3 separate regions of the Homo sapiens genome follow, and all the other regions are linked to region 1. The links come from fine-mapping of genetic effects on plasma protein levels. Region 1 holds a variant in brackets. A gene starts in each other region. All regions are shown on their forward strands.

Region 1 (10,283 bases):
ACAGGCATAAGCCACCACACCTGGCCCTCATTCTTTATTTTTTGCCTGTTTAATGAAAAGCTGCATACTTTATATTGCATGAAAGTAACATAATTTTATTTATTTATTTATTTATTTGGAAACGGAGTTTTGCTCTTGTTGCCCAGGCTGGAGTGCGATGGTGCGATCTCAGTTCACCACAACCTGCGCCTCCCAGGTTCAAGCGAGTCTCCTGCCTCAGCCTCCTGAGTAGCTGGGATTACAGGCATGTGCCACCACTCTCGGCTAATTTTTTATTTTTAGTAGAGACGGGGTTTCTCCATGTTGGTCAGGCTGGTCTCGAGCTCCCGACCTCAGGTGATCTGCACGCCTTGGCCTCCCAAAGTGCTGGGATTACAGGCATGAGCCACCTTGCCCAGTTGAAAGTAACATAATTTAATTTGTCCCCTACTGATGAGCATTTAAGTTGCTTTCAGTTACTTGCTATTACAAACTTAGTGCACAAATAATTTTGCAGTGTTGCAAGTATATCCCTGGGATAAATTCCTCAACATGTATTACTGGGTCACTAGTTATTGGTTGCCTATAGTTTTGCCAACATAGTATATTTAAAAGTAAAATAAAATTGGCTGGATGTGGTGGCTTATGCCTGTAATCCCAGCACTTTGGGAGGCTGAGGTGGGAGGATCGCTTGAGCCCAGGAGTTCAAGACCAGCATGAGCAACATAGTGAGACTCCCAGCTCTCCAAAAAATAAAAAATTGCTGAGTGTGCTGGCTTGTGCCTGTAGTCACAGCTGCTTGGGAGGCTGAGGTGGGAGGATCGCTTGAGCCCAGGAGTTTGAGGCTGCAGTGATCTGTGATCATGCTACTGTACTCCAGCCTGCATGAGAGAGTGAGAACCTGTCTCAACAAACTCCAAAAACAAAACAAAAAAAATTGTCCCATTTAAGAGGTGAATGGTATTTCAGTACAGCTTTACTTTATTTATTTATTATTTATTTTTGAGACAGAGTCTTGCTCTGTCACCCAGGCTGGAGTGCAGTGGCACAATCTTGGCTCACTGCAACCTCCGCCTCCCAGGTTCAAGCGCGCTCCTGAGTAGCTGGGATTACAGACGCGCGCCACCATGCGCAGCTCATTTTTGTATTTTTAGTAGAGACGGGGTTTCACCATGTTGGCTAGGCTGGTCTTGAACTCCTGACCTCGTGATCTGCCTGCCTTGGTCTCCCAAAGTGCTGGGATTACAGGCGTGAGCCACTGCACCAGGCCAGTTACTTTATTTTTTTAAAAATTAAAAATTAATTAATTTTTAAATTAATATATTTAATTCAGTAAGCATTAAGGGTTTAATTAGCTTAATTTTTCCTATTTCTTTTGAGACAGAGTCTTGCCCTGTCACCCAGGCTGGAGTGCAGTGGTGCTATCTCGGCTCAGTGTAATCTTTGCCCACTGCAATCGCTGCCTCCCGGGTTCAACTGATTCTCTTGTGTCAGTCTCCCGAGTAGCTGAGATTACAGGCATGTGCCATCATGTCCAGCAAATTTTTGTATTTTTAGTAGAGACGGGGTTTTGTCATGTTGGCCAGTCTGGTCTTGAACTCCTGACCTCAGGTGATCCACTCACTTTGGCCTCCCAAAGTGCTAGGATTACAGGCATGAGCCACCGCACCTGGCCTACTTTCTATTATGAGGAAATTTGAGCATCTTTTCATGTGTTTTCCAGTTTTCCGGTTTATTAAGTTCCGCTCTTATCTTTATTAACGTCTATGTGCTCTCTCAGGTTTATAGGTTTATTTTATTGTTTGTTTTACAACTTCTGGAATTGGATTTCTAATTAATTTTATTTATTTATTTATTTTTTAGAGAGGGGCTCTTGCTATGTTGCCCAGACTGGAGTTCAGTGGCTATTTACAGGTACAATCCTACTACTGATCTGCAGGGAGTTTTGACCTGCTTTGCTTCTGACCTGGGCAGGTTCACCCGTCCTTAGACAATCTGGTGGTGCCCCGCTCCCAGGAGGTCCCTACATTGATGCCAAACTCAGTGCAGACACTGGATTGGCATAGTGCACTATAGCTCAGAATTCCTGGGCTCAAGTGATCCTCCCACCTCGGTAGCTGGGTCTGTAGGTGCGCCACCACACTTGGCTGTTTATTTATTTTCATTCTTATTTATTGACCTAATTACTTTAATGCTATACATTGTCCTCTAAGCATTGCTTTTGCTGTATCCTGGAGGCCTTATCTGTATTCTTTTCATTATTTCTATTTTCTTTTTTTTTTTTTTTGAGATGGAGTCTTGCTTTGGCAACCAGGCTGGAGTGCAGTGGCGCGATCTTGGCTCACTGTAACCTCCGCCTCCCGGGTTCAAGTGATTCTCCTGCCTCAGCCTTCTGAGTAGCTGGGATTATAGGCGTCTGCCACCACAACTGGCTAATTTTTGTATTTAGCAGAGATGGGGTTTTACCATGTTGGCCAGGCTGGTCTTGAACTCCTGACCTCAGGTAATCTGTCCACCTTAGCCTCCCAAAGTGCTAGGATTACAGGCGTGAGCAACCATGCCCGACTAGTGCCCTGTGTTTTGGACACTTCCTCATTCTTTGTCTTTCATGACCTTGACACGTTTGAAGACCACTGGCCAGTTACTTTGTAGAATGTCCCTCAATTTGGATTTGTCCCAATCACTGGGTTAATAAGTATCACATTATTTATATTAAAAATTTTTACTTTTTTGAGACAGAGTCTTGCTCTGTCGCCCAGGCTGGAGTGCAGTGGTGTGATCTCGGCTCACTTGGCTCACTGCAGCCTCCACCACCCAGGTTCAAGTGATTCTCCTACCTCAGCCTCTCAAGTAGCTGGGACTACAGGCACCCACCACCACGCCCGGCTAATTTTTGTGTTTTTCGTAGAGAGGGGGTTCGCCATGTTTGCCAGGCTGGTCTTGAACTCCTGACCTCAAGTGATCCACCCACCTGGGCCTCCCAAAGTGCTGGGATTACAGGCGTGAACCACTGTGCCTAGCCTTGGTCTTCATTTAATCTGAGATGAACAGTGGATGGAAGCATCTTTTTTTTTTTAGATGGAGTCTCACACTGTCTCCCAGGCTGGAGTGCAGTGGCACGATCTCAGCTCACTGCAACCTCCATCTCCCGGTTCAAGCAATTCTCCTACCTCAGCCTCCCAAGTAGCTGGGATTACAGGCACCCGCCACCACACCCAGCTAATTTTTGTATTTTTAGTAGAGATCGGGTTTTGCCATGTTGGTCAGGCTGATCTTGAACTCCTGACCTCAGGTGATCCTCCCGCCTCAGCCTCCCACCGTGTTGGGATTACAGGTGTGAGCCACGGCACCCAGCCGGAAGCATCTTTTTTCTGTTTGTTTTGTTTGTTTGAGACGGAGTTTTGCTCCTGTTGCCCAGGATGGAGTGCCATGGTGCAATCTCAGCTCACTACAATCTCTGCCTCCCGGGTTCAAGCAATTCTCCTGCCTCAGCCTCCTGAGTAGCTGGGATTACAGGCATGCGCCACCACACCTGGCTAATTTTGTATTTTTTAGTAGAGATGGGGTTTCACTATGTTGGTCAGGCTAGTCTCGAACTCCTGACCTGAAGTGATCCACCTGCCTCGGCTTCCCAAAGTGCTGGGATTACAGGCGTGAGCCACCACGCCTGGCCGGAAGCATCTTAAAATGTAAAACTGCAGATGCAGGTTTAGCAATTTAGACGCTTGCACCCAAGATGCACATATTACTAGAGCAATGCCAAACAAATGTGATTCTGTGGGGTTTCTGTTTGATTTTTAATTTGGAAGGGATTCTGGCTGAGTGAGGTGGCTCACATCTGTAATCCCAGCACTTTGGGAGGCTGAGGTGGGCAGATCACTTGAGGCCAGGATTTTGAGACCAGCCTGGCCAACATGGTGAAACCCTGTCTCTACTGAAATTATAAAAATTAGCTGGGCATTGTGGTGGGCACTGGTAATCCCAGCTATTTGGGAGGCTGACACAGGAAAATTGCTTGAACCTGGGTGGCAGAGGTTGCAGTGAGCCGAGATTGTGCCACTGCACTCCAGCCTGGGCGATAGAGCGAGACTCCGTCTCAAAAGAAAAAGATTCTAAGGCATGGCAAATAAGATTTAAAAATTCTGTTGTACAATACTATGTCACATCTCAATGTGACTTAAATGTAGGAATTATAACCAGGATGTCCTTCAGTCCTTGGATTTCTCCAGCCTTCATTTGTTGATATAGTTTGGATGTTTGTCCTTTCCAGATTGCACGTCGAGATGTAATCCCCAGTGTTGGAGATGAGCCCTGGTTGGAGGTATTTGGCTCATGGGGGTGGATCTCTCATGAATGGTTCAGTGCCAACCCCTTGGTGCTGTTTCTGCAATAGTGAGTGGGATCTGGTTGTTTAAGAGTGTGGCACCTCCCTCCCGCACTCTCTCTTGCTCTCTCTCTTGCCCTGTGACATGCCAGCTCCCCTTCAACTTCCCCTGTAAGTGGAAGCTTCCTGAGGTCCTCACCAGAAGCAAATGCTGGCACCGTGCTTCCTGTACAGCCTGCAGAACCGTGAGCCAAATAAACTTTTTTTCTTTATAAATCACCCAGTCTTAGGCATTTATAGCAATGCAAGAATGGCCTAACACGTTTGTTTTGCAACTGTGAGTGTGAATCAACATATTGGTTCTTTTCAATGCTCAAAACATTGTGCTTTAATTGTGAGACACATAAGGCTGGCATATGGGTTGCCAAAATTATGATTCTTGAAAGTCCTGGCA[G/C]ATATTTCAAAGTAAAATAATGAAAATTTATAGAAAGGAATTGAGGAATAAAAGAATTTAAATAAGAATAAGTTTAATAAATTTAAGTAAGAATTTAAGGCCAGGCGTGGTGACTCATGCCTGTAATCCAGCATTTGGGAGGCCGAGGTGTGTGGATCACCTGAGGTCAGGAGTGTGAGACCAGCCTGGCCAACATGACCAAACCCCGTCTCTACTAAAAATACAAAAATTAGCCGGGCATGATGGCAGGTGCCTGTAATCCCAGCTGCTCAAGAGGCTGAGGCAGGAGAATCACTTGAACCTGGGAGGTGGAGGCTGTAGTGAGCCAAGATCGCACCACTGCACTCCAGCCTGGGTGACAGAGTGAGACTCTGTCTCAAAAAAAAGGCTGGGTGTGGTGGCTCATGCCTGTAATCCCAGTACTTTGAGAGGCCGAGGTGGGTGGATCACCTGAGGTTAGGAGTTCAAGACCAGCCTGGCCAACATGGCAAAACCCTGTCTCTACTAAAAAATACAAAAAATTATCTGGGCCTGGTGGCGGGCGCCTGTAATCCCAGCTATTTGGGAGACTGAGGCAGGAGAATTGCTTGAATCTAGGAGGTAGAGGTTGCAGTGAGCCGAGATCGCACCACTGCCCTCCAGCCTGGGCAACACAGCGAGACTCTGTCTCAAAATAAATAAATAAATAAATAAATAAATAAATAAAAAGGTGTTCGGCTCTATAAAGATCTACTTTTCCCCAAATCTATTTTTTTCTTTTTAAGGGACAGGGTCTTGCTCTGTCACCCAGGCTGTAGTACAGTGGCATAATCATAGCTCACTGCAGCCTCAAACTCCTGGGCTCAAGTGAGCCTCCCACCTCAGCCTCCCCAGTAGCTGGGACTACAGGTGTGTGCCACCCCGCTGGGCTAATTTTTGCATTTTTTGTAGAGAAGGGGTCTTGCTATGTTGCCCAGGCTGGTCTCGAACTCGTGAGCTCAAGCAATCTGCCCGCCTCAGCCTCCCAAAGTGCTGGGATTACAGAAGTGAGCCACTGTGTCTGGTCTACGTTTTTATTTTAAATTGAGCATTAAGGGAATGCAGTCTTTTAATCAGAACTCTGCCAATGCTTTTTATCTAGATGCCTATTGCCACTTTTGTCTTCTATGAAATTTTTGTCTCAAGAAAAGCAGGATTACATTTTTTTTCCTTAACAGATTGAGTTGGTGATGTGTATTCTTGGTTACCAAAATGCTCACATAGCTTTAGGTTTTGAATGGGTAAATATTCATGATGCGTGAAAAAGCATAATACGTATTGTGTGATCTCAGTCCTATGAGATTGGATGTTCTGCCTACACCCAGGACCCTAGAAGGAATGTCAAGCTGTAAAATGCTGGTGATTGTGGATGACTTTGTTTTTTGCTTCCTGTTTTTCAATTTCCTTTTTTTTTTTTTTTTTTTTTTTTTAGGCGGAGTCTCACTCTGTCACCCAGGCTGAAGTGCAATGACGCAGTCTTGGCTCACTGCAACCTCCGCCTCTTGAGCTCAAGCGATTCTCCTGCCTCAGCCTCCTGAATAGCTGGGATTACAGGCACATGCCACCACACCCGGCTAATTTTTGTAATTTTAGTAGAGATGAGGTTTCACCATGTGGGCCAGGCTGGTCTTGAATTCCTGACTTCAGGTGATCCACCCGCCTCGGCCTCCCAAAGTGCTATGATTACAGGCATGAGCCACTGTGCCCGGCCTATTTCTTCTATCTAATTGTATTTTTGTAGCTATCAACCAACCTCTCTTCACTGCCCCCTCCCTACACTCTGATAACTGTCAGTCTACTCTACCTCCACGAGGTTCTTCCTTTTTTTTTTTTTCTGAGACAGAGTCTTGCTCTGTTGCCCAGGCTGGAGAGCAGTGGCATGATGTTGGCTCACTGCAACCTCCGCCTCCTGGGAGTCAAGTGATTCTCCTGCCTCAGCATCCCGAGTAGCTGGGATTACAGGTGTGCAGCACCATGCCCGGCTAATTTTTGTATTTTTAGTAGAGATGGGGTTTCACCATGTTGGCCAGGATGGTCTCAAACTCCTGACCTCAAATGATCTGCCCCCCTCGGTCCCCAAAGTGCTGGGATTACAGGCATGAGTCTCACTGGCGTGAGAATTTAGAAGCACCTCTCCCACCCGCGCCCAGCTGGCCTCTTCTAGAATTTTATATAAATGGAATAGTCATATTGTCTACTATTTGACTTTTTTCACTATCCTAATGTTGTTGCAATTCTTCCAAGTCAGTTCACATATATTTCATTCCTTCTTATTGCCAAAGAGGATTCCATTGTATGGATATACCAAAATTTATCCCTTCACTATCTGATAACCTCCCTTCTTAATTTTTAGCTATTATAATTAGTACACTCAAAACTTGTGTGTGTATACATGTTCATTTCTCTTAAGTAAATACCTAGATCAAGATAATCAGGCTGGGCGAGGCAGCTCATGCCTGTAATCCCAGCCCTCTGGGAAGCTGAGGCTGGAGGATTGCTTGAGCCCAGGAGTGTGAGACCAGTTTGGGCAACATGGTGAAACTCTGTACAGAAAAATAAAAAAAATTAGCCGGGTGTGGTGGTGCATGCTTGTAATCCCAGCTACCCAGGAGGCTGAGACAGGAGGATTGCTTGAACCCGGAAGATTGAGGCTGCAGTGAGATGTGATCACACAACTGCATTCCAACCTGGGTAACAAAATGAGACCCTGTCTCAAAAAAAAAAAAAAAAAAAAAAGAGATGGCGGGGCACGGTGGCTCATGCCTGTAATCCCAGCACTTTGGGAGGCTGAGGCAGGTGGATCACCTGAGGTCAGAAGTTTGAGACCAGCCTGGCCAACATGGTGAACCCTGGTCTCTACTGAAAATACAAAAAATTAGCTGGGTGTGGTGGTGGGTGCCTGTAATCCCAGCTACTTGGGAGGCTGAGGCAGGAGAATTGCTTGAACCCGGGAGGCGGAGGTTGCAGTGAGCTGAGATTGTGCCACTGCACTCCAGCCTGGGCGACAGAGCGAGACTGTTTCCAAAAGGAAAAAAAAAAAGATAATCAGTAGGACCAAGACATGGGAACAAAGACTGTTCGCTGCTCTCAACAGACGCTACTCAGTGCCACCATGAGCTTGTCAGGTAAACGTCCAAAGAGAGAGGGAGGAAAGAAAAAAAATATTTTAGCCACCTAGAATTACAAGTAGTTCTACACATTTTACTTAAAAAAAGAAGGAAAAAAGGTACTGATTATCTCGCGGTGGGGGGCGTCCCCAGAGAGGCTGCTGGTTGGAGACACAGGGCGCCTTTCCTCTTCCCACTTTCCCTCTTGTCAGCCAGAGACAAAGAACTCAGGCTTCAGGTGGCTCAAAACGTAAAGGAAGAAAAAAAAAGAAAAAAAAGAAGCCGGGCACAGTGGCTCACGCCTGTAATCCCAGCATTGGGAGGCTGAGGTGGGCAGATCATGAGGTCAGGAGTTCGAGACCAGCCTGACCAACATGGTGAAACCCCGTCTCTACTAAAAATACAAAAATTAGCTGGGCATGGTGGTGGAAGGTAATCGCCATTGCACACCAGGCTGGGCAGCAAGAGTGAAACTCTGTCTCAAGAAAAAAAAAAAAAAAGAGAGAGAGAGAGAGACTGCTGCTTCAGGAAGTTAGAAGTCCAAGAAAAAAAGGAGAACTTTAAACTTTAAGTATTGAGCAAACACCAGGTCTAGCAAACATAATGTTATCTCTAGATTACTTATTGATTAATGAGCAAACCTGTAGGTACAGGGAGAAAATAAAAGGTGACTAACTAAATTATATATACATATAAAATATACATACATAATATATGTGATATAATACATATATTACTGTATAATATATACATATGTACACATATGTGTGTATATATATTAATATATAATACATTATATATTATTATATGTACCATATAGGTATACTACATGTATATTCTATACACATTATATATGTATATATAATTTATCTAGTCACCTTTTATTTTCTCCTTGTACCTAGAGGTACAATATATATGGTTAAATATATTGTATATATTATATACAATATATTATATATGTAGATATGTATACCTTATATGTACATATGTATATTATATGTAACAATATATATGTAGATATGTATACCTTATATGTACATATGTATATTATATGTAATACATTATATGTATTATACATATATAATATACATATGATACATATATAATATTTTAATATAAATATAAACAGATAAATTTAGTATACAATATATTTTCCATAGTTTGATTCAACTGGAAATTCAAAATTCATATAACAAAAATATAAAAAAGGACACTGGGTTTTGTGCCTCTACAATGTAGGTTCTAACTTTAACCTTTCAAAAAATGCACTAGGCCAGGCGTGGTGGCTCACGCCTGTAATACCAGCACTGTGGGAGGCCAAGGTGGGAGGATTGCTTTAGGCCAGGAGTTTGAGACCAGCCTGGGCAACATAATGAGACCCCTGCCTCTACAAAAAAAATTAAAAAAAAAGTTAGCCAGGCATGGTGGCGAATGGCTGTTGTCCCAGCTACTCTGGAGACTGAGGCAGGAGGATTGCTTGACCCCTGGAGGTTGAGGCTACAGTGAACCATGATAGTGCCACTGCACTTCAGCCTGGGTGACAGAGGGAGACCCTGCCTCCAAAAAAAAAAAAAAAAAAAAGAAGGAGCCCCATCCTACATACCAGATGCCAGACAACATCACCCCAAAATCTCACTGCTGTAGATGCCATCATCTCAGACGACATCACCCCAACCCAGGGCCTTGACACTAGAGATGACTTCACCCCTTACGCTAAACCTTCACTCCTTGGGTGGTAAACCTAGGTCACGCCCATGGATTCACCTCTCCTAAGACACAAATGGACATAGGACATTTTTACTTTTCTTTCTGAACTCCCTGCCTGCATAGGCTATGATCTTAGTACGCTGCTTGCTCTCTGCTCACATCCATCCCTAAAAGAAACTCTGGCCATGTGCAAGCCAATCTGGAAGCCATGCCAGTGTGTGACAGCATCATTACACTCTGCTCTAGGTCCAGAGTTGATCTGTTCCCTTGGCGCCACCCTAGGCGGTGGAGTGGGTGGCTGTGCATGGGATTTCAGGTCAACTGGGTGCCTTCATATGCTTCAACTGTTTACGCTCATCCAAGGCCTTACTCAGCATGGCACGTAGCCCAGACTTCTCTGATAGCCTTTAATATCCACACCATTCGAACGGTACCCGTTGGAATATGCACAAGGTCTCACGCCTAGGTCAGTGGTATTAGGAACAACAGACCAAAGGTTGCTGGCTAGACTTTAGAAGTAGATCACCACATCCACATGGGCCAAGCTGGTAGCCAGAATATGAACTTAAAGGCGCCTCTCTCACCCAGCAGGCTGGGCTCCCTGCATTCCCGCCACTTCCTTTATTTTTATTTATTTATTTATTTATTTATTTATTTATTTATTTATTTTGAGATCGAGTCTCGCTCTGTTGCC
Region 2 (10,283 bases), not on the chromosome of region 1:
ATCCTCAATAAAACACTCACAAACCAAATCCAGCAGTACATCAAAAAGCTTATCCACCATGATCAAGTGGGCTTCATCCCTGGGATGCAAGGCTGGTTCAACATACACAAATCAATAAACGTAATCTAGCATATAAACAGAACCAATGACAAAAACCACATGATTATCTCAATAGATGCAGAAAAGGCCTTTGACAAAATTCAACAACTCTTCATGCTAAAAACTCTCAATAAATTAGGTATTGATGGGACGTATCTCCAAATAATCAGAGCTATTTATGACAAACCCACAGCCAATATCATACGGAATGGGCAAAAACTGGAAGCATTCCCTTTGAAAACTGGCACAAGACAGGGATGCCCTCTCTCACCTTCCTATTCATCATAGTGTTGGAAGTTCTGGCCAGGGCAATTAGGCAGGAGAAAGAAAGGATATTCAATTAGGAAAAGAGGAAGTCAAAATGTCCCTGTCTGCAGACGACATGATTGTATATTTAGAAAACCCCATTGTCTCAGCCCCAAATCTCCTTAAGCTGATAAGCAACTTCAGCAGTCTCAGGATACAAAATCAATGTGCAAAAATCACAAGCATTCCTATACACCAATAACAGACAAACAGAGAGCCAAATCATGAGTGAACTCCCATTCACAATTGCCTCAAAGAGAACAAAATACCTTGAAATCCAACTTACAAGGGATGTGAAGGACCTCTTCAAAGAGAACTACAAACCACTGCTCAATGAAATAAAAGAGGATACAAAGAAATGGAAGAACATTCCATGCTCATGGATATGAAGAATCAATATCATGAAAATGGCCATACTGCCCAAGGTAATTTATAGATTCAGTGCCATCCCCATGAAGCTACCAGTGACTTTCTTCACAGAATTGGAAAAATCTACTTTAAACTTCATATGGAACCAAAAAGGAGCCCACGTTGCCAAGACAATCCTAAGCAAAACAGAACAAAGCTGGAGGCATCACACTACCTGACTTCAAACTATACTACAAGGCTACAGTAGCCAAAACAGCATGGTACTAGTACCAAAACAGAGATATAGGCCAATGGAACAGAACAGAGTCCTCGGAAATAATACCACACATCTACAACCATCTGATCTTTGACAAACCTGACAAAAATAAGAAATGGGGAAAGGATTCCCTATTTAATAAATGGTGCTGGGAAAACTGGCTAGCCATATGTAGAAAGCTGAAACTGGATCCCTTCCTTACACCTTATACAAAAATTAATTCAAGATGGATTAAAGACTTAAGTGTTAGACCAAAAACCATGAAAACCCTAGAAGAAAGCCTATGCAATACCATACATGCCATAGGCATGGGCAAGGACTTCATGACTAAAACACCAAAAGCAATGGCAACAATAGCCAAAATTGACAAATGGGATCTAATTAAACCAAAGAACTTGTGCACAGCAAAAGAAAATACCATCAGAGTGAACAGGCAACCTACAGAATGGGAGAAAAATTTTTACAATCTATCCATCTGACAAAGGGCTAATATCCAGAATCTACAAAGAACTTAAACAAATTTACAAGAAAAAATCAACCCCATCAAAAAGTGGGTGAAGGATATGAACAGACATTTCTGAAAAGAAGACATTTATGCAGCCAACAGACCATGAAAAAATGCTCATCATCACTGGCCATCAGAGAAATGCAAATCAAAACCACAATGAGATACCATCTCACACCAGTTAGAATGGCAATCATTCAAAAGTCAGGAAACAACAGGTGCTGGAGAGGATGTGGAGAAATAGGAACACTTTTACACTGTTAGTGGGACTCTAAACTAGTTCAACAATTGTGGAAGACAGTGTGGTGATTTCTCAAGGATCTAGAACTAGAAATACTATTTGACCAGCCATCCCATTACTGGGCATTTACCCAAAGGATTATAAATCATGCTGCTATAAAGACACATGCACATGTATGTTTATTGCAGCACTATTCACAATAGCAAAGACTTGGAACCAACCCACATGTCCATCAATGATAGACTGGATTAAGAAAATGTGGCACATATACACCATGGAATACTAGGCAGCCATAAAAAAGGATGAGTTCATGTCCTTTGTAGGGACATGGATGATGCTGGAAACCATCATTCTGAGCAAACTATTGCAAGGACAGAAAACCAAACACCGCATGTTCTCATTCATAGGTGGGAATTGAACAGTGAGAACACTTGGACCCAGGGTGGGGAACATCACACACCAGGGCCTGTCGTAAGGTGGGGGGAGCGGGGAGGGATAGCGTTAGGAGATATACTTATTGTAAATGATGAGTTAATGGGTGCAGCACACCTACATGGCACATGTATACATATGTAACAAACCTGCACATTGTGCACATGTACCCTAGACCTTTAAGTATAATAAAAAAAAATTGGTGTGGATGTATGTGTGGGTTCACATTGCTAAATGCATAGAGGAAATTCTGGAAGGATATGCAGAACCCTCTGGAGAGGGGAGAGGGATTAAAGGAATGATGAAGAGGGACTTTCCTTTTTTTAATTCTTTAAATTTTTATATTTGAAAATACACTAAGTATTTGTAACTTTCATAATATTAGGATAAATTCTTTAATTTTTGTGACATTTTTGGTAATTTTATTTTTTTGGTAATTTTTTACTTTTTTTTTTTTTTGAAATGAGAGTCTCACTCTTTCACCCAGGCTGAAGTGCAGTGGTGCGATCATGGCTCACTGCAGCCTCGAACTCCTGGGCTCAAGCAATCTTTCTGCCTCATTCTCCCAATTGCTGGGATTACAGGCAGCGAGGCCAAGGCAGGAGACTTGCTTGAGGCCAGGAGTTCAAGACCAGTCTGGGCAACATAGTGAGACTCTATCTCTACAAGAAAAATTTTTTTAATTAGCCAGGTGTGCCTGGGCATGGTGGCTCACACCTGTAATCTCAGCACTTTGTGAGGCCGAGGTGGGTGTATCACCTGAGGTCAGGAGTTTGAGACCAGCCTGGCCAACATGGTGAAACCCCGTCTCTACTAAAAATACAAAAATTAGCTGGGTGTGGTGGTGCACGCTTCTAATCCCAGCTACTCAGGAGGCTGAGGCAGGAGAATTGCTTGAACCCAGGAGGCGGAGGTTGCAGTGAGCCGAGATTGCACCATTGCACTCCAGCCTGGGCGACAAGAGCAACAAACTCCATCTCCAAAAACAAACAAACAAAAAATTAGCTAGGTGTGGTGGCATGCACCTGTAGTCCCACCTATGTCAGACCTCTTAGGGACCACAATTGGAGTCCCAATTGTGCAGAACAACATTGAGTCACAAATGTATATTCGTGGTAACCTTCCCTAGCCAGAGTCTTATGATTAAAACAAAAGGTAAACGTTTTAGGATGCAAGCAGCAAATCTCTAGCAAGTATTGGTGTGATTCAGTAGCCATTGTACTCTGAGAAAGAAGGTTGTCAGTGGGAAGGCAATTTGGGACTCACTGCAGCAAAACCTCCTAACTTGAATCTGCTGGGCACAAGTGAGCCTTAATCTTAATGTACAATAAAACAGCCAGGCCCACAAAGTCCTAGATTGTGGGTTTAAATAATCAGGCTCAGGGCCACCGAAACAGGATGATAGACATGTTTATGGATTCAGTATTGAGTTCTGGGAGCCAGCAGCCACGTCAGCAGAGGTGGAGTGTGCCCTACCTTTGGGCAGAATCCAAGGCTTTTAATTATAGATAAAGTCACCTGCTTCCTGATTTATGCAAAACACTTAGGGAATGCCAGTTATTGAGCCATCACAACAAGATAGCCATTTAAGACACCATTAAGATAAGGGAACAGCTTTCTGCCTCAAGGAAACAAAATATATTTCCCAAAGTTCCAAACTGGCACAGGCCTTTTTCCTATTCCCCTTGCCAAGGCCACCTGTCCTCTTCTCTGCACTGTTGAGTTGTTGAGTGTTCTCTACCTTCCTCCCTCCCCACTTGGTTTTCCACCCCCTCCCTGGAGCCAGAATCACTTAAGTGCCTCCCACAGGGCACCTGGCTTACATGGACACTTGAGTGGAAGTTTGTTAAGAATAGCTGTGGCGTTGCCCCTCTATTCCACGACTGTTCTCAGGCCTACTTGTGTATTTTTACCCAGTATCACTTATTTTTAAATGACAGAAGTTTGGAGCTTCTCAGGCAATGTGATTTTCCTGTGGCCTAAACTGCCTTAGGTAAAGCATCGAGACTAACCCAAAAGGCTATTGCTGGGTCTCTCGGCTCCCTTCCTTATTATCACCAGCAGCCGTACCTTTTCACACACCTCTGCATTTTGCCGTTCCACCCCACCGTCTCTACCAGGACTCAGTCCCATGTGAAGGTGGGTCCTGGGTATGGCAGAGCCTTCCTCATTACCCTCTGCCTCCTCGACCTGCTGTTCCCTCCCTCCTTTCCTGTAGGAGAGCTGCCGCTGTGGGGACAGGTGGGAGTAGGTCAGGAAGCTGGATGGAGGTACACATTTCAAAGTTTTATGTAAAAAATTTGAGTTGGTGGAATTACCAGAACTAGGAGTGAAGCCTTAGCAGGTAGGCCTTTCAGAAATAGTGAAAATGAGTCCCCAAATCTCAATGGTGAATTTTTCTGAGAAATGTTACAGAAACATAAAGTGACAAATTTTTGTCTTTATATTGATAAGATAGATAGATTAGTAGAAATTGAGAAGAGATTGTCCAGGTTTTTTCTGTTGCTTATTTGTATAAGCCCAGTACATTGACGGACTATATTGGGAGTCCCTAAGCAAATGCCTGCAGGGACCAGGCAGTTAATACAGCAAACTTCAGAGGCTCATCTGCTTTAGCCAGTTCTTGCCATGGTATGGTGGAATCATTGTTGCCACATCTGATTTCTCAAGAGAAGCTTTAAAATCCAATTTGTATGTGTGTATGTATGAGTATGTACATGAGAAAGCTTTCAGTTTTAAAATGTTGGCTCAGATTTTTAAAAAGCAGACCAAAGACTTATATTCCACCTCTGCTCTAGACTTAGAGAATCTGTTCAGGATAAAGCTTAAAGAAAAGATGACAATGGAAAAGAGTCATTGGTCAAGTATTAAGTACTGACACTTAGGGTTTCCTGAATATAGTAGTGAGTGCTACTTTAGAAGAGATTCCCTCTAGTTCAAATGCAGTTACAATCTCCAAATACATGCTAGCAACTCACGATTTAAATTCTCTTTGACATAATTTGTATGGTTCAATCTCCCTCATCCTGCTTTTCTTCTTTTTCTTTCTTTCCTTTCCTTTCTTCCTTTCCTTCTCTTTCCCCTCCCCTCCCCTCTTTTTGTTTTTAACAGATGGGGTTTTACTATGTTGCCCAAGCTGGAGTGCAGTGGCAATTCAGAGTGCAGTGGCAATTCACAGTGTGATCATAGCTCACTGCAATCTTGAATTCCTGGCCTGAAGCTATCCTCCAGCCGTAGCCTCCCAAGTAGGTGGGAATACAGGCATGCACCACTGTGCTCAGCTCTGCCCTCCCTTTTTAAAGGTCAGACTGAAGTTTCAGTTTTCTGTATCCATAGAGCTGACTTTGCTCAGGAAATTTACAACTTACCTAATTTGAACGCAGCTGGCCAAGTCTGTATTTCCCTCCAGGAATGTGCACAGTTGTGTTCAGACCGTTTAGCAGGTTGGGGTGTGGAGGAAGACAGATGAATAGTAGGGGCTTTACTCCAGCCTCTAGCTGGGGATTTTCTAAGATACTGTCTTCAGAAAAGGAAACATAGCTCGAAGTTGTACCTACATGGAAGGACCTCATCCTCCAGGTGGCAAAAATTTGTAGTATGCCTGTTAGAATGAGGTTCCTTCCTGAAACTTCTGGGAGATCTAGAATTTAAAGCTATGTCATTCTCTTGTAGGTAATCAGAAATCAATTGGAAATTCCTGCTTGAAGAGATAGATATTCTTGCCCCACCTCAATCCTTCCAGCACAGATTTGGGAGATACCCCCCTTTCCAGTGAAGGCCTAAGTGTCCAGTGCCCCCACTCACCTTCTGAGGCATGTAGGGCCGCACAGACAGCCAAGGCCACGATGGCGAGTCCTCTCTGCTGCATTCCTGCCTGCCCTACTGGCACTGACAGCAACACAAGTGAGGCTGTTCGATCAGGAAATGAGGCTAAAGGTGTCCTTGGGCACAGAGAAAGTGCAGAGGAAAAGTAAGCCAGGTGGCCCCGCCCTGGGAGGTGTTCAGGGTATCTATTTCTCATGTTTCTTTCCTTAAGACCAGGCTCCTCCTCGACTTATTAAGCTCCTAACTTGTGTTCATCCTGCCTGGGGGTCAGGGGATGTCAATGGAGATCTGGCAGCTGGCAGGGTCACTGTGAGGTGGGGTGTGCATCAGAATCATTTGGGGAACATTAAAAAAAATCAATCTAAATGACTCTCCCCTTTCCCTGATTTGTAAACCAGAACTCCCAGGTAGGAGACCAGTCATTTGAATTTTGTAAAAGCTCTATAGGTGATTCTGATGGACACTTATGTTGAGACCCATTGCATAATCAGTTTTTAAGTAGCTTATGGAAACCATGAGTTTCTGGGGACAAGGGTGACAAGTCATAAAAAATGTATCTTTGTGGAAAGATATGGAAGTATTAAACCCCACTTTAGTCTTGGTTCACAGCCAAATTGTTTCCAGTGAAGCTTTTTACAATAGCTTATTTAGGAGAAAGACAGGAAGGGGGGCAATGCCTTGTAGAAAAGAGCCCAAGAGCAGGTGTGAAGAGGCATGAGCGCTAGTGCAGCTTTGCTGCCAATCAGCTTTGTGAATAAAAGCATGGGGTAGCATGAAGATAATTGGATTCTAATTGTTCCTCATCTACTAATAAGTTGTATAACCTCAGGCAACGTACTTAACTTTGCTGTAAATAACAAGTCAGACTAGATGACCTCCAAAGTCATGCCATGCTTCCTCTAGAACTGTGTTGTCCTATGTGGTAGCCGCTAGCCCACATGTGGCTCTTGAGCACTTGAAATATGAGTAGTCCAAACTCAGATGTACTATGGGTATAAAATTCACACTGGATTTCAAAGACTGGGTACAGAAAAAAATATAAAATATCTTGTTAATAATGTTTATACTGTTTATTGATTACATGATAGTATTTTGGACTTTTTGGGTTAAATAAAATATATTATTAAAATTAATTTCACCCATTTCTTTTTATGTTTTCAAATTACTGCTGTGGTTTGAATATTTTTTTCTTCTCCAAAGCTCATGTTGAAAATTAATCCCTAATAGTGCTGGGAGATAGGGCCTAATGGACAATGTTTAGGTTATGATGGCTCCACCCTCATGAATGGATGAATGCTACTATAAAAAGGGCTTGTGGGAATGGGTTGGTACCTTCTGCTCTTCTGCCAGGTGAGTACACAATGCTCCTTCTCTCCAAAAGATGCAGCAAAGTGGCATCATCTTGGAAATAGAAACTGAAATCACTGGAGCCTTGATCTTGGACTTCCCAGCCTCCATAATTGTAAGAGAATACATTTCTGTTATTTATAAATTGCTCAGTCTCGGGTTGTGGTGTTATGATATATATATTGGCTTTTATCCATGGTTCCTGGCTTATAACTCCCATAACCCTTGTTACAGTTTTTTTTTGTTGTTTGTTTGTTTGTTTTTTTTTTGAGACAGAGTCTCGCTTTGTTGCCCAGGCTGGAGTGAGTTTCACCATCTTGGCAAGATGCTGGTCTTGAACTCCTGACCTTGTGATCCACCCGCCTTGGCCTCCCAAAGTGCTGGGATTACAGACATGAGCCACTGTGCCCAGCCCAGTCTTTTTTTTATATTATAATGTTGGGGCACTTTAGGCTTCAGGAACAGGCCTCAGGAAACGGAATCTCTCTCTGACCTTCTGTTTTTCTTTCACCTGCCCAAGGCAGGACTCTAATCTGATTGTGGGTCATAAGATCCTCATTCCAGAAAGGGTTCTGTCCCATACTCTAGAGGAAGGAATGCTACACAGGCCAAGAAAAGCCTGAACAGGCAGGACTTGCTGGGTTTAGATTATGTGCTTTTTGTCTAATCACATTTCTACATGGTTGTTAATCATGCCTATGTAATGAAGCCTTTGTAAAACCCCAAAAGGGCAGAGTTTGGAGAGCTTCTGGATAGCTGAACATGTGGAGGTTCTTAGAGGGTGGCGTGCCCAGGGAAGGCATGGAAGCTCTGCATCCCTTCCCCCATACCTTGGCCTCAAGCGATCCTCCTGCCTTGGCCTCCCAAAGTGCTGGGATTACGGGCATGAGCCACTATGTCTGGCCTTCATCTGTATCTTCTGTACTGTCTCTTATAATAAACCGTTAAATGTAAGTATTTCCCTGAGTTCTGTGAGCCACTCCAGTGTTGCAGGAAGTCAGGAACCCCGAATGGAGGGACCAACCGGCTGAAGCCATGGCAGAAGAACATAAATTGTGAAGATTTCATGGACATTTATTAGTTCCCCAAATTAATACTTTTATAATTTCTTACGCCTGTCTTTACTGCAATCTCTGAACATAAATTGTGAAGATTTCATGGACCCTTATCACTTCCCCAATCAATATCCTTGTGATTTCCTATGCCTGTCTTTAATCTCTTAATCCCATCATCTTCATAAGCTGAGGAGGATATATGTCACCTCAGGACCCTGTGATGATTGCGTTAACTGCACAAATTGTTTGTAGAGTATGTGTGTTTGAACGATATGAAATCTGGGCACCTGGAAAAAAGAACAGGATAACAGCAATGTTCAGGGAACAAGAGAGATAACCTTAAACTCTGACTGCCGGTGAGCCGGGCGGAACAGAGCCATATTTCTCTTCTTTCAAAAGCAAATGGGAGAAATATCGCTGAATTATTTTTCTCAGCAAGGAACATCCCTGAGAAAGAGAATGTGTCAGTGAGGGTAGGCCTCTGAAATGGCCACTTCAGGGGGTGGCCATCTTTTATGGTCGAAGCTGTAGGGATGAAATAAGCCCCAGTCTCCCATAGTGCTCCCAGGCTTATTAGGATGAGGAAATTCCTGCCTAATAAATTTTGGTCAGACTGGTTGTCTGCTCTCAAACCCTGTCTCCTGATAAGATGCTATCAATGACAATGCATGCCCAAAACTTCATTAGCAATTTTAATTTTGCCCCGGTCCTGTGATCCTGTGATCTTGCCCTGCCTCCATTTGTCTTGTGATATTCTATTACCTTATGAAGCACGTGATCTCTGTGACCAACACCCTATTCATACACTCCCTCCCCTTTTGAAAATCACCAATAAAAACTTGCTGGTTTTACGGCTCAGGGGGCATCACAGAACCTGCCAACATGTGATGTCTCCCCTGGACACCCAGCTTCAAAATTTCTCTCTTTTGTACTCTGTCCCTTTATTTCTCAGACTGGCCAACACTTAGGGAATATAGAAAAGAACCTACGTGAAATATTGGGGGTGAATTTCGCCCGATATCTGGCTGAATTTCCCCCATACTCCAGCCAATTAATCAAACCCATAGAGAGGTTGTGGGAACCCCAACTTGGAGCCAGCTGTTCAGAAGTTCTGGAGGTCTGGACTTGTGACTGGTGGGAAGTAGGGGGTGATCTCATGGGACTGAGCCCTCAACCTCTGGTTCTGGCACTATCTCTTGGTAGATAGTGTCAGAACTGAATTGGAGGACACCTAGCTGGTGTCCGCTGCTTGGTGTATGCACCAATTTACCCCCTACATATTTGGTTATAGAAGTCTTCTGTGTTGATGATTTTTGTGGTATGAGAGCAGAGGAAAAACAGTTCGAGAGTTTTTTTCCTCAAACAGAGATATTCTGTTATAGCAGCATAAAACAGACTAAAACAATTACATATGTAATTGAAACCCAGAATATTTCAAATCACATGGGTAGATCACATATTTGCATTGGGTGTTGCTGCTTTTGAAGATCAAGAGCAGGTGTCCAAATTTACCCCAGCTATCAAGTTACATTTAACCAAGCTCCAATTCACTATCAAGAACCAGAGTTATAATAAGGAATGGGAGCTTTGGAGAGCAACAGACTTGCAAAGATAGTGACCTCTTGAATGAGAAGACCCACAGCAGCATTCCAGCCTTTCCACTAAGCAAAGGGACCTTACCACAGGTCTTGATAAAGGAGGACAGAGAACCAACCTGTGGAGGTGACAAAGACCTGTGAAATTACACACACCAGCCATAACCACAGGAGCCCCTCTGGACCAAAGCCGTGTGCTCTGAAGATAAGAGTCAGGAGGCTGGGTGTGGTGACTCATATCTGTAATCCCAAC
Region 3 (9,966 bases), not on the chromosome of region 1:
AATTTGAAGAAGAATGCTAAGTCAGGATTTATTATATAGAGTCTATAATTCACGTTAGGGCATTTCCAATTTAGTAGCAGTTTATTGAGCAGCACTAAGGAACTATGAATACATCTGTACTTATGGTGCCAGGATTTTTAGGACGTATTCTTCTTAGGTACTTAAGTGAAACTATGGTTTCAGTGTTATGTGATAATCTCAGACTTGCTCAATTTCATTACCAGTGTCTGGTTAATAAAATTTGCAGACAAGGCAAGAAGAAGCAACTAAAATTGCCTCATTCACCCCTTCTCCAAAAAAAACCCTAACAGTTTTTTTTGTGTGTGTACTACTTATAATCCACAGAATGTGCTGACCATATCATAAAGATTTATAATTGTTGGCTATGAAAATCTTTTCAGAAATAGATACAAAGAGGTATATTAATTCCATGTGGGCATATTAGGTCCTGTACTCAGTAGCCAAAAATAATTAAGTATAATCTTTCCTTTTCTAATAGCATTATCCAAAACTACTCCATTTGTTTGAAAGCTCTTCTTGGCTAATTAGAGGAAACAGTCCTGAAATTTTAAGTCACTGTGAGTGTTTGGCATCTTAAGTTCCATGTATTTAAAATCGAATCTGCAGTTTTTTCTGCTAAACTACATCTTCCCCCTCATATCCCTATTTCTGTTAGTGACAGAACTATTCTTTCAGACCTCAGAAGTTCAGCCTTTTTTCCTTGTCTCTTCTCTGCTTTAAATTCAGACTCAAATCCTTAACATGTTCTTTGTTTCTTTTTTGCATCTTCAACTTTCTTTTTCTGAGATGGAGTCTCGCTCTATGTAGCCCAGGCTGGAGTGCAATGACGCGATCTCGGCTCACTGCAACCTCCACCTCCCGGGTTCAAGCGATTCTCCTGCCTCAGCCTCCTGAGTAGCTGGGATTACAGGCATGCACCACCATGCCCAGCTAATTTTTTGTATCTTTGGTAGAGACGGGGTTTCACCATGTTGGCCAGGCTGGTCTTGAACTGCTGACCTCGTGATCCACCCGCCTCGGCCTCCCAAAGTGCTGGGATTACAGGCGTGAGCCACCGTGTCTGGCCTCAGCTTCAACTTTCACATCCAATCTATCACTGTCTTGATTATTTTTGTACAGTGTACTTGTCATTATATTTCTACTCTTACCAATACCACCTTAGTGTAGCCCTTCTTCTTTTTATGATAGTAAAATACAAATAACATAAAATTTACCATTTTAACCATTTAAAAGAGTACAATTCAGTGGAGTTAAGTACTTTCACAGTGCTGTGAAGCCATCACCATAATTTAGTTCCAGAACATTTTCATCACCCAGAAACTCCATACTCATTAAGTAGTTACTCCTCATTAACACCTCCCCCAAACCCCAGTCAGCTAATTTGCTTTTTGTTTTTATGGTTTTGCCTACTCTAGATATTTCCTATAAAATGGAATCATACAATATGTGGTCCCTTGTGTCTGGCTTTTTTTACTTAGCATATTTTCAAGGTTCATCCATGTTGTAGCATGTATCAGTACTTCATTCCTTTTTATGGCCGAATAATCTATTGTGTGTGTATACCACATTTTATCCATTCACTTGTTGATGGATATTTGGGTTGTTTCTGCTTTCTGGCTGTTGTGTATAATGCTGCTATGAACATTTGTGTACCAGTTTTTGTTTAAAGAGCTGTTTCAGTTCTTTTGGGTATATACCTAGGAATGGAATTGCTGGATTATATAGTAATATATAATTACTATAATTATGTTTAACTTATTGCAGAGCCAGCCCCATTACTTTTCACACCAGTGTTTCCCAAAGTGTGGGACACTACCATGTACATTGATAATAACGTTTAGTATCAGTGAATTATTCTCTTCTTAACTTCAATCCCTCTGATTAATTAAATCAGGGGGAATATTAGTATTTTTTCATTGTATTTTGTTTTATCATTACATTTTATTTCCATGGCATGTATTACCGATTTTACATGTACAGTAGTGAAAGTTTACTTTTCATGTAAATGTACGTAAAATAAAGTGGTATACAGAGTTTCTAAAAATATAATGAAGATCAAACAGAGAAATGTTAAAAAAAAATTGTAAAGATGATATGAGAATGCCTTGAAGTTTTGGAAATACAGACCTGAGATATTGCAGCTATTGCAGCAAATCCCAACTGATTTTCCTCCTCCACTCTTTCCCACTTTCAATCAACCATTCATGCAATTCCCAGAATATTTTCCAATGACTTTGATAGGGTCACTCTCTTCTTCACAAACATTTATTGAATCCCCATTTTGTACAGAGTAAAATTCAAGGTTATTTACAGTTTCATGTCCTTCATCCTTCCAACCAAACGAATCTAATTATGATTCCTAAAAATCACTTTATACTTCCTACTACTGTACATTCCCTTGTGTCATTCCTCTGCTGTAAATTCCTTTTCCCTTAGTTTATATTGCCATTCAATAGGGTCTGATATGCACCAGAAACTGTACTGTTGGCCTGGGCTACAGCAGCTTTCTTTTACACTTATGAGAGAGCAGATATTAGGCACAGGAATAATTCATTAATTACAATTGCAGTAAGTAGTATGATGGAAAAATAGAGAGTGTTATGGAAATAAATAAATAGGACACCTAATCTAGTTAAAGCTGAAGTGGTGGTTTCAAAGGCTTCTTGGAGAAAAAGTCATTTAAGCTGAGACCTAAGCAATTAGTAGGCATTAGCTTAGTGAAGAAATGGGCAGAGAGAATAGTATGTGCAAAGGTACCAAGGTGGGGAGGATCTTGGCTCAAATATGTTAATTATTAATATTTCATATATTTATTTTGCTATGAAGAACTTTAGGTGTATGTTTTCTTCTCAGTAATAATGTACTGGCCTATAATATTTAATATACTTCTTACAAATACCAATTTATCATGCAGCCTTAACTCTGTGAATTTTTTTTTTTTTTGAGGCAGGCTTTTGCCCAGGCTGGAGTGCAGTGGTGTGATCACAGCTGACTGCAGCCTCAACCTCCCAGACCCAAGTGATCCATCCACCTCAGCTTCCCAAGTAGCTGAGGTTACAGGCATGTGCCACCATACCCAGCTAATTTTCCTATTTTTTATAGAGATGAATTTTCGCTATGTTGCCCAAGCTAGTCTTGAACTCCTGGGCTTAAGCCATTCACCTATGTTGGTCTCCCAAAGTGCTCAGATTATAGGTGTGAGCCACCATGCCCAGCTGACTATGTGAATTTTTATTTTTAAAGAGACTTAAAAAAAAAATCACTGTAAGTAGTCAAAGATTAGATTCAAGTCTTTTTTTTTTTTTTTTTTTTGAGGTGCAGTTTCACTCTTGTTGCCCAAGCTGGAATGCAATGGCATGATCTCAGCTCACTGCAACCTCTGCCTCCCGGGTTCAAGCGATTCTCCTGCCTCAGCTTCCTGAGTAGCTGGGATTACAGGCACGTGCCAGCAGCCTCGGCTAATTTTTTGCATTTTAAGTAGAAATGGGGTTTCACCATGTTAGCCATGCTGGTCTTGAACTCCTGACCTCAGGTGATCCGCCCGCTTCGGCCTCCCAAAGTGCTGGGATTACAGATGTGAGCCATCGCACCCAGCCAGATTCAGGTCTTAAAACTATCCAGGGAATTTATATGGAAGTCCCATCTCTATATAGATATTTATATAGATTTATATAACAATTTATTATAAATCTATATTGTATCTATAACCTATATAATAATGCAATATAGATATATCTGATTATAATCCTATAATAAATATTTTTATTTTTCAAATGTATGGGTGCCTATATAGAGAGTACTGCTATCAGTCAAGGCTTTTGGTTACATGCAGAGAAACCAACTCTGGCTATCTTAAGGAGAAAAAGAATTTAGTTGGAGGTTGAAGAATCCACAGGACAATGGAGAATAAGTCTTGGAAAATGGACAAAGACCTAAGGGAACTAGGTGATAGGAAGGACTAGCCAGAGTCATGCTACAGGAACACACATTGGGAAGACACTACTGTAAGACTTTCATTGTTTCTCCTGCTGCTGCCAGGCTTGAAATAATTTTCTTACTAATAGTATCTTTGTGATGCCAGCTGGAGTTCAAAGTCTAGGGTAGAAACAGCATGGCTGAGTCCTTGTTGTGGCTACAGGAGAGGATCTCCTGTCTTTGGCTTCTCTCTTTTGGCCTCCCACCAACACTCACATAAGGGATTTTCTCCAAGTAAGAAGGGGGTTTGGACTATCAAGACCCCCCAAGGCCGACAAAAGAAACAACTGTCTTTCCCACCTACCCATTAAAATATATTTCTAAACAGTTTTTCATGATGACGGATAGGTGTATGTTTCTGAAATATAAGGCAAAATTGTTAAAGGCATCTCAAATGTCCTGGAAAGTATATAGATCTTTTTTTAAAAAAGAAAGGTTGTGGTAGTTTATTAGAGAAAAAAATGACTTTGATTCTTTAAACTAGTCTTGAGTATACCTAAATTTTACAGTATATAGGCATGAACAAAGAAATTGATTAGATTATGTATTTTTCTAAGAGACAGAATTACAAAAAGTAAAAGTGATTGCTAGGTATACATTTGCTTATTTTTCAACATTTTTCTTTGGTAGACAAAAACATTTTGTATTTCAGATGTGTCCAAGATATTGCTATCATTTATACAAACGGATCAAAACAAAAAGTACAGTAAACACACATATCCTAATTGCTTCAAAACATCTCAATGAATAAAAGTTGAAAAACATCAAATTAAGACTGGTGCTACTAATTTGGTTATGAAATATGTGCACTTTTGCCAGTATCCCATAGCGTATAATTTTTTTCATAGTACATTTTATGAATTACATTTAATGAATTGGTTATAAAACAAACCAAATGATGCATAAGAATGTCTCCCTACATATTGATGTGCTACATGATGTTTGGGGAAAGAAGTGTGTATTTGCATGAAAAAATGTTTGAGGAATGTTTTACGACACATAGATGCTTTTGACTTATAAGGGCTTGACTCCAGTAATAATGTCAATGTCTCCACCGTAACCACAGATAGTAATATAGCATAAAGATCAATACAGACAGATGACTTCTAGAGACAGAAATGTTCTCATAGTCACAACAGAATAGTTGTAAGCATCAAATCTAGAAGGTTCTCTAGCCTAGAAATGCATGAATGTATAATGCAACAAGTAAGAACGTGAAAGCACTTTGTAAACTCCGATGGTAACCAGCCTTTCTTAAGGTAGCTTTTCCTAGAAATCCATTTAATTGTTGGACTCCTTTGGGCAGTGGAATTCTGATTGTCATTCATTCAGGAAGACTGTATTTCTGTTTTTGGTCCTTTCACCCACCTTTCATCCTTCACATAACTGTACAAAAGTTGAAAGTCACAAAACCATAGAAAAGTCTCAGTTTCCTACTGTAGAATTCTTGTCATTTCAGTAGTCACAGTTAAACTTGTTCTAGGTTTTTCAGATGCTCTTTTCCAGGACTTCATATGTTTTGATATTTTTAAAAATTCTTTCTTTCAACTTTCTGGAATAAGAAAACAAGAGTTTTATTTACTTGGGCTGTTCTTGTTTCCCCCAGGACATCTAAAAACATGTAGTAAGAAGGGGAAGCTGTTACAACCAAGGACCCCTTAACAGAATATTTCACACAGGATCATAGCAGAATCTTTCTGTAGTTGTCCACATTATTTTCTTTTTCAAAAGATCTGTCTTGGATAAAACAGATTATAACATGGGAGTAATTTGGTAACTTACTTTGATTATAAGCCTTGCTTGCTTCGATTTGGGATTTAGGCATCGTTGTCCTTTATTTTCTTTCAGGGTAATACTGTTAAAAGAACATACAAGAGTCTTAAAGTTTAGATGCAAATACATAAACAAAAAAGCCTGCACCATTGTCATCTTCAGCAAGTTCATTACTTACATCACTTCTATTTTGTCACAGTTGTTACTTGGGTACATTATGGAGGCTTTCTCAATATCTGCCACTTTCACTGCTTTTACCCCAGGGCCTATGCAAAGACAGCGTCCTCTTTTGAACATGGGGAAGCCTAGAATAGATCATAGCATTAGTTAGTAATGCATCTGATTGCAACAGATGGCTGTGGTTTATAGCTGGTGGTGAACGTGAGCAGAATTTTCATTAAGGGTAAAGATAGTAATTTGTCAAATAGCACTTAACACAACTGTTACTGGGAAAAGTTAAGTAAGATGTTGATTATTTTCTCATTAAATTAGTAAGCAAATCGCTAACAAATGGGAAGCATGAAGGAAGTTTATTGGAGGTGAAGCTTGTTTTGCCCCCTTGATTTTATCCTCAAATATTTTCCCAGGAAGCTTGTTAACATGATCGCTATATAAAATCTTCTTAACAGACATTTAAAACTGTTGCTAAAGGCTTTTGCCAGATATTCTAGCCAAATCAAAAATTCCATGAAGTTCATAATTTCTAGTTTCAATAATCATCTCTAGTATCTTAAACATGTCCACCATTTCTGTGCTAAAGCTGTAGTAACTTCTAATCTGTGAGATTAAATAAAACTTTATCATGTCTTTTAGGATAAAAGTGGAAGAAAAGACATTTGAAACATTAGAAAAGGAACTTATAGGTTGAGAAATAAAAATTACTGCATACCTTGAACAACTGTAGCACACAATATCACAGCCAAGGCTATAGCCATGCCCTTCACACTCATGTTTGTTTTTTGCTGTTGCTGCTGGTGCTGCTGCTGCTACTTCAGCTTTGCTGCTCTTCTTGGAAGGAGTAGAAATGCTGAACATGAAAGGAAATTGATAATTGGCATATATAGAGCATTTTATACACCAGCAATCCTTTTATGGCACAGGAATTTCCCTCTTTGAGTCATGCACCTTTCCTGCTTCCAAGAGTTTCTGTTTTGTTCTCTTCTAAATGTTACTGTCCCTTCCTATTTGCAGTAGTGTTGAAAGTGATAAGAATGTGAAAGCACTGTGAAAACCCAGATGGTAACCAGCCTTCTTAAGGTAGCTTTTCCTAGAAATCCATTTAATTGTCGGACTACTTTGGGCAGCGGAATTCTGATTGTCATTCATTCAGGAAGACTGTGTTTCTGTTTTTGGTCCTTTCACCCACCCTTCATCCTTCACATATCTATACAAAATAATATTCTGAAAAGCTTTTTTTTATTATCTCACTTTTGCTTTTCAGTCCAAACTCTTATAATAGATAAGGCCTATATTATTTGACACCAGATGACCTTTATTCAATTTCATATTTTTACCTGTAAATGAGTGCCTAAAGAAGTTTCCCTGTGTTTCTGTATTTATGTCCATATTGTTTTGCATTTTCAACAATTTTTACTTTATATATTTTATTTTGTTTTGCTTTATTTTATTTTTAAATTTAATTTAATTTTATTACTTTATTTTATATTTATTTTATTCTGCAAAGCTTTCATTATAGGCAGATGGCAGGGGGCTCAGTCCTTCTTGGCAGCTGCTTTCCTCATGGCAGCCAGGACGTTGCTCAGCTCCTCCTGCCTTCTCTTGGTGCAGATGTTTGTCCCTACCCTTTTCTTGATGAATTTGAGGGCCTGTTTGACCTTGGAGACCTTCAGTAACTCCATGCCACGCCACTCGTTAGGGGTGAAGCCACACACCTCTGGGATCATGTCCCACACAAATTTAGTGAGTTTGGTCAGGCGCCCACAGTGGCTGTGCCTGGGCTTGCTCACATTCTTGGTCACCTTGTGGCCCTTGTTGAGGCCCACAGCTATAGGGTAGTGCAGTGTCATGGCTGCTGCCCTCCAATGGTGGCCATGGTGGAAAGCTACTTTATATATATTTTAGCACTGTTACTTAGTACATGAAGTTGTATGAGTTGTATTAGGGATCATAAAAAAAAGTGATCCTCTTTGCTCATGTGATAGTTTTACCTCTGAGATTCTACTTTGATGTAATTCCTATTTTTTTGTCTTTATCTTTTCCTCTTAAGCTTCCTAAATCTTTGTTTTAAGTGTGTCACTTGTAGATGTTTAAGAAAATCATATCAAAGGAGCTTTCTAATGGGTAAGCTTAATAAAATATATTTACTGTATAACTGGTAATCTGTAATTTTTAAAATGCTTCCTTGCTGATTCTTTATGTTTTCTTTGATTTCTTTCTAACTTTAAATATATTTTATTTAACTTTTTGAAGCCATTTTTGTTTTTTTTAATGAGATGGGTCTCACTCTGTCACCATTCTGGAGTCGAGTGGCACAATCATAGCTCACTGCAGCCATGAACTCCAGGCCTCAAGCAATCCTCCTGCCTTGGTCTCCCAAAGTGCTAGGATTACTGGGATGAGCCACGGTGCTTGGCCTTCCTTAAGTAATTTGAAAGGAATACATTGTTTTACATTTTGATATTAATTCTTAAAATTCTTTAAAAAGATTTTTACCTGAATTTTTCTAATTATTTACATCAACCATCAATAATATTTTTTTAGCTCCTGTCTTTGTAACATGAGAAAATCACTGTAACTTTCTTTCAAGAATTTTCTCCTATTTCCTAGTTTTACCAATAAAAGTTGGTATAATCGGGGAATTTATAGCCAGTTTATTACTTTTAGATTATTATTTTATCTTATTCAACTTCTTTTTTTGAGAATTATCATTTGCATTTTATCTTGAAATTATATATTTATTTAGATATAATCCTGCATTTAAATTCTTTAACAACCATGACTAGTCTTTAAAACCTTTGAAAGTCTTTACAGTAGTCCCCCATTAAATGAGAAATTCTAGAAATAATTCATAAGTTTTAAATTGTGCACTTTTCTGAGTAGCATGATGAAATCTCACATCATCTTGCTCCATCACTTCATCCCATCACATAGACATTTTATCATTTCACAGCATCACTAGAAGAGTGAGTATAGTACAATAAGATATTTGAAGAGAGAGAGACTACACAGTCACTTAACTTTTATTACAGAATATTGTTGTAATTATTCTATATATTAATGTTGATGCTCTTACTGTGGCTAATTTATAAATCAAACTTTTTTATAGGTATATATGTACAGGAAAAAATACAATATATACAGGGCTCAGTACTATCTGCAGTTTCAGGCACTCATTGGGGGTCTTGGAACATATCCCCCAAGGATAAGGTGAGGGGGCTACTGTATTTTAATTAATTTCCAAGTAGCTGGAATATTCTTTCCTTCTTTTCCATTAATTCATTTAACATATGTAAAGAAAGACTAATTTTCCCTCAGGAATATGGGTAAAGTAAAAGGAATGTGTTCTTGGAGCTCATAAATCCTTATCTGTTATTATTTTTTAATGTTGCTTTTCATTTTCTCAGCATTAGAAACACAGTAGAGCATAGTTGTTAATAGGGAAGGCTCTAGAGTCAGCCTGTGTTCAAATCCACCCTTGATTATTTATTTATTTATTTATTTATTTATTTATTTATTTATCTTTGAGATGGATTCTTGCTCTGTAGCCCAGGCTGGAGTGCAGTGGTGTGATCTCGACTCACCACAGCCTCTGCCTCCTGGATTCAAGTGATTCGCCTGCCTCAGCCTCCCAAGTAGCTGGGATTACAGGTGCGTGCCTCCATGCCTGGCTAATTTTTATAGTTTTAGTAGAGATGGTGTTTAGCCATGTTGGCCAAGCTGGTCTTGAACTCCTAACCTCAGGTGATCCTGCCGCCTTGGCCTCCCAAAGTGCTGGGATTACAGGCGTGAGCCACTGTGCCCAGCCCACATTCAGTTATTTATGAACAAGTTACCTCAACTTTTTGAGGCTATTTTCTCATCTATAGACTGGGGATAATAATAGTACTTTTTTTTTTTTTTGAGATGGAGTCTCTCTGTGCCACCCAGGCTGGAGTGCAGTGGCATGATCTCGGCTTACTGCAACCTCCGCCTCCTGGGTTCAAGCGATTTTCTTGCCTCAGCCTCCCAAGTAGCTGG

Which allele goes with the higher level. Alleles are on the strand shown, and positions count from the first base shown. The strength of an association depends on the size of the effect and on how common the allele is.
As copies of C replace G in region 1, the plasma level of the protein whose gene starts at base 6,151 in region 2 goes down (weak association).
For the plasma level of the protein whose gene starts at base 6,802 in region 3, G is the low allele of the variant in region 1 and C is the other (weak association).

The links. PIP is the posterior inclusion probability: the model's chance that the variant is causal. Protein levels are from antibody-based Olink assays in UK Biobank. Linkage for the fine-mapping came from a reference panel and not from the study's own genotypes, which makes the PIPs less certain.
Region 2: it holds the start of CCL28, and the variant in region 1 is fine-mapped to the plasma level of the CCL28 protein (UK Biobank, PIP above 0.99).
Region 3: CXCL11 starts here. The variant in region 1 is fine-mapped to the plasma level of the CXCL11 protein (UK Biobank, PIP 0.97).

The regions. Positions count from the first base shown.
Region 1 is chr7:100,904,451-100,914,733 of GRCh38, forward strand. It overlaps the pseudogene RN7SL549P. Among named protein-coding and RNA genes, the nearest start is that of ACHE, 14 kb to the left of the region's middle. The variant G/C (reference allele first, on the strand shown) is at 4,758.
Region 2 is chr5:43,406,241-43,416,523 of GRCh38, forward strand. CCL28 (C-C motif chemokine ligand 28) reads right to left here and starts at 6,151. Exons shown (of 3, transcript NM_148672.3): 1 at 6,013-6,151. The coding sequence starts at 6,076.
Region 3 is chr4:76,029,269-76,039,234 of GRCh38, forward strand. It overlaps CXCL11 (C-X-C motif chemokine ligand 11), which reads right to left and starts at 6,802. Exons shown (of 4, transcript NM_005409.5): 1 at 6,659-6,802; 2 at 5,948-6,074; 3 at 5,779-5,851; 4 at 4,414-5,548. The coding sequence starts at 6,719. The coding sequence ends at 5,525. It also overlaps a transcript of ART3 not described here and the pseudogene RPL36P8.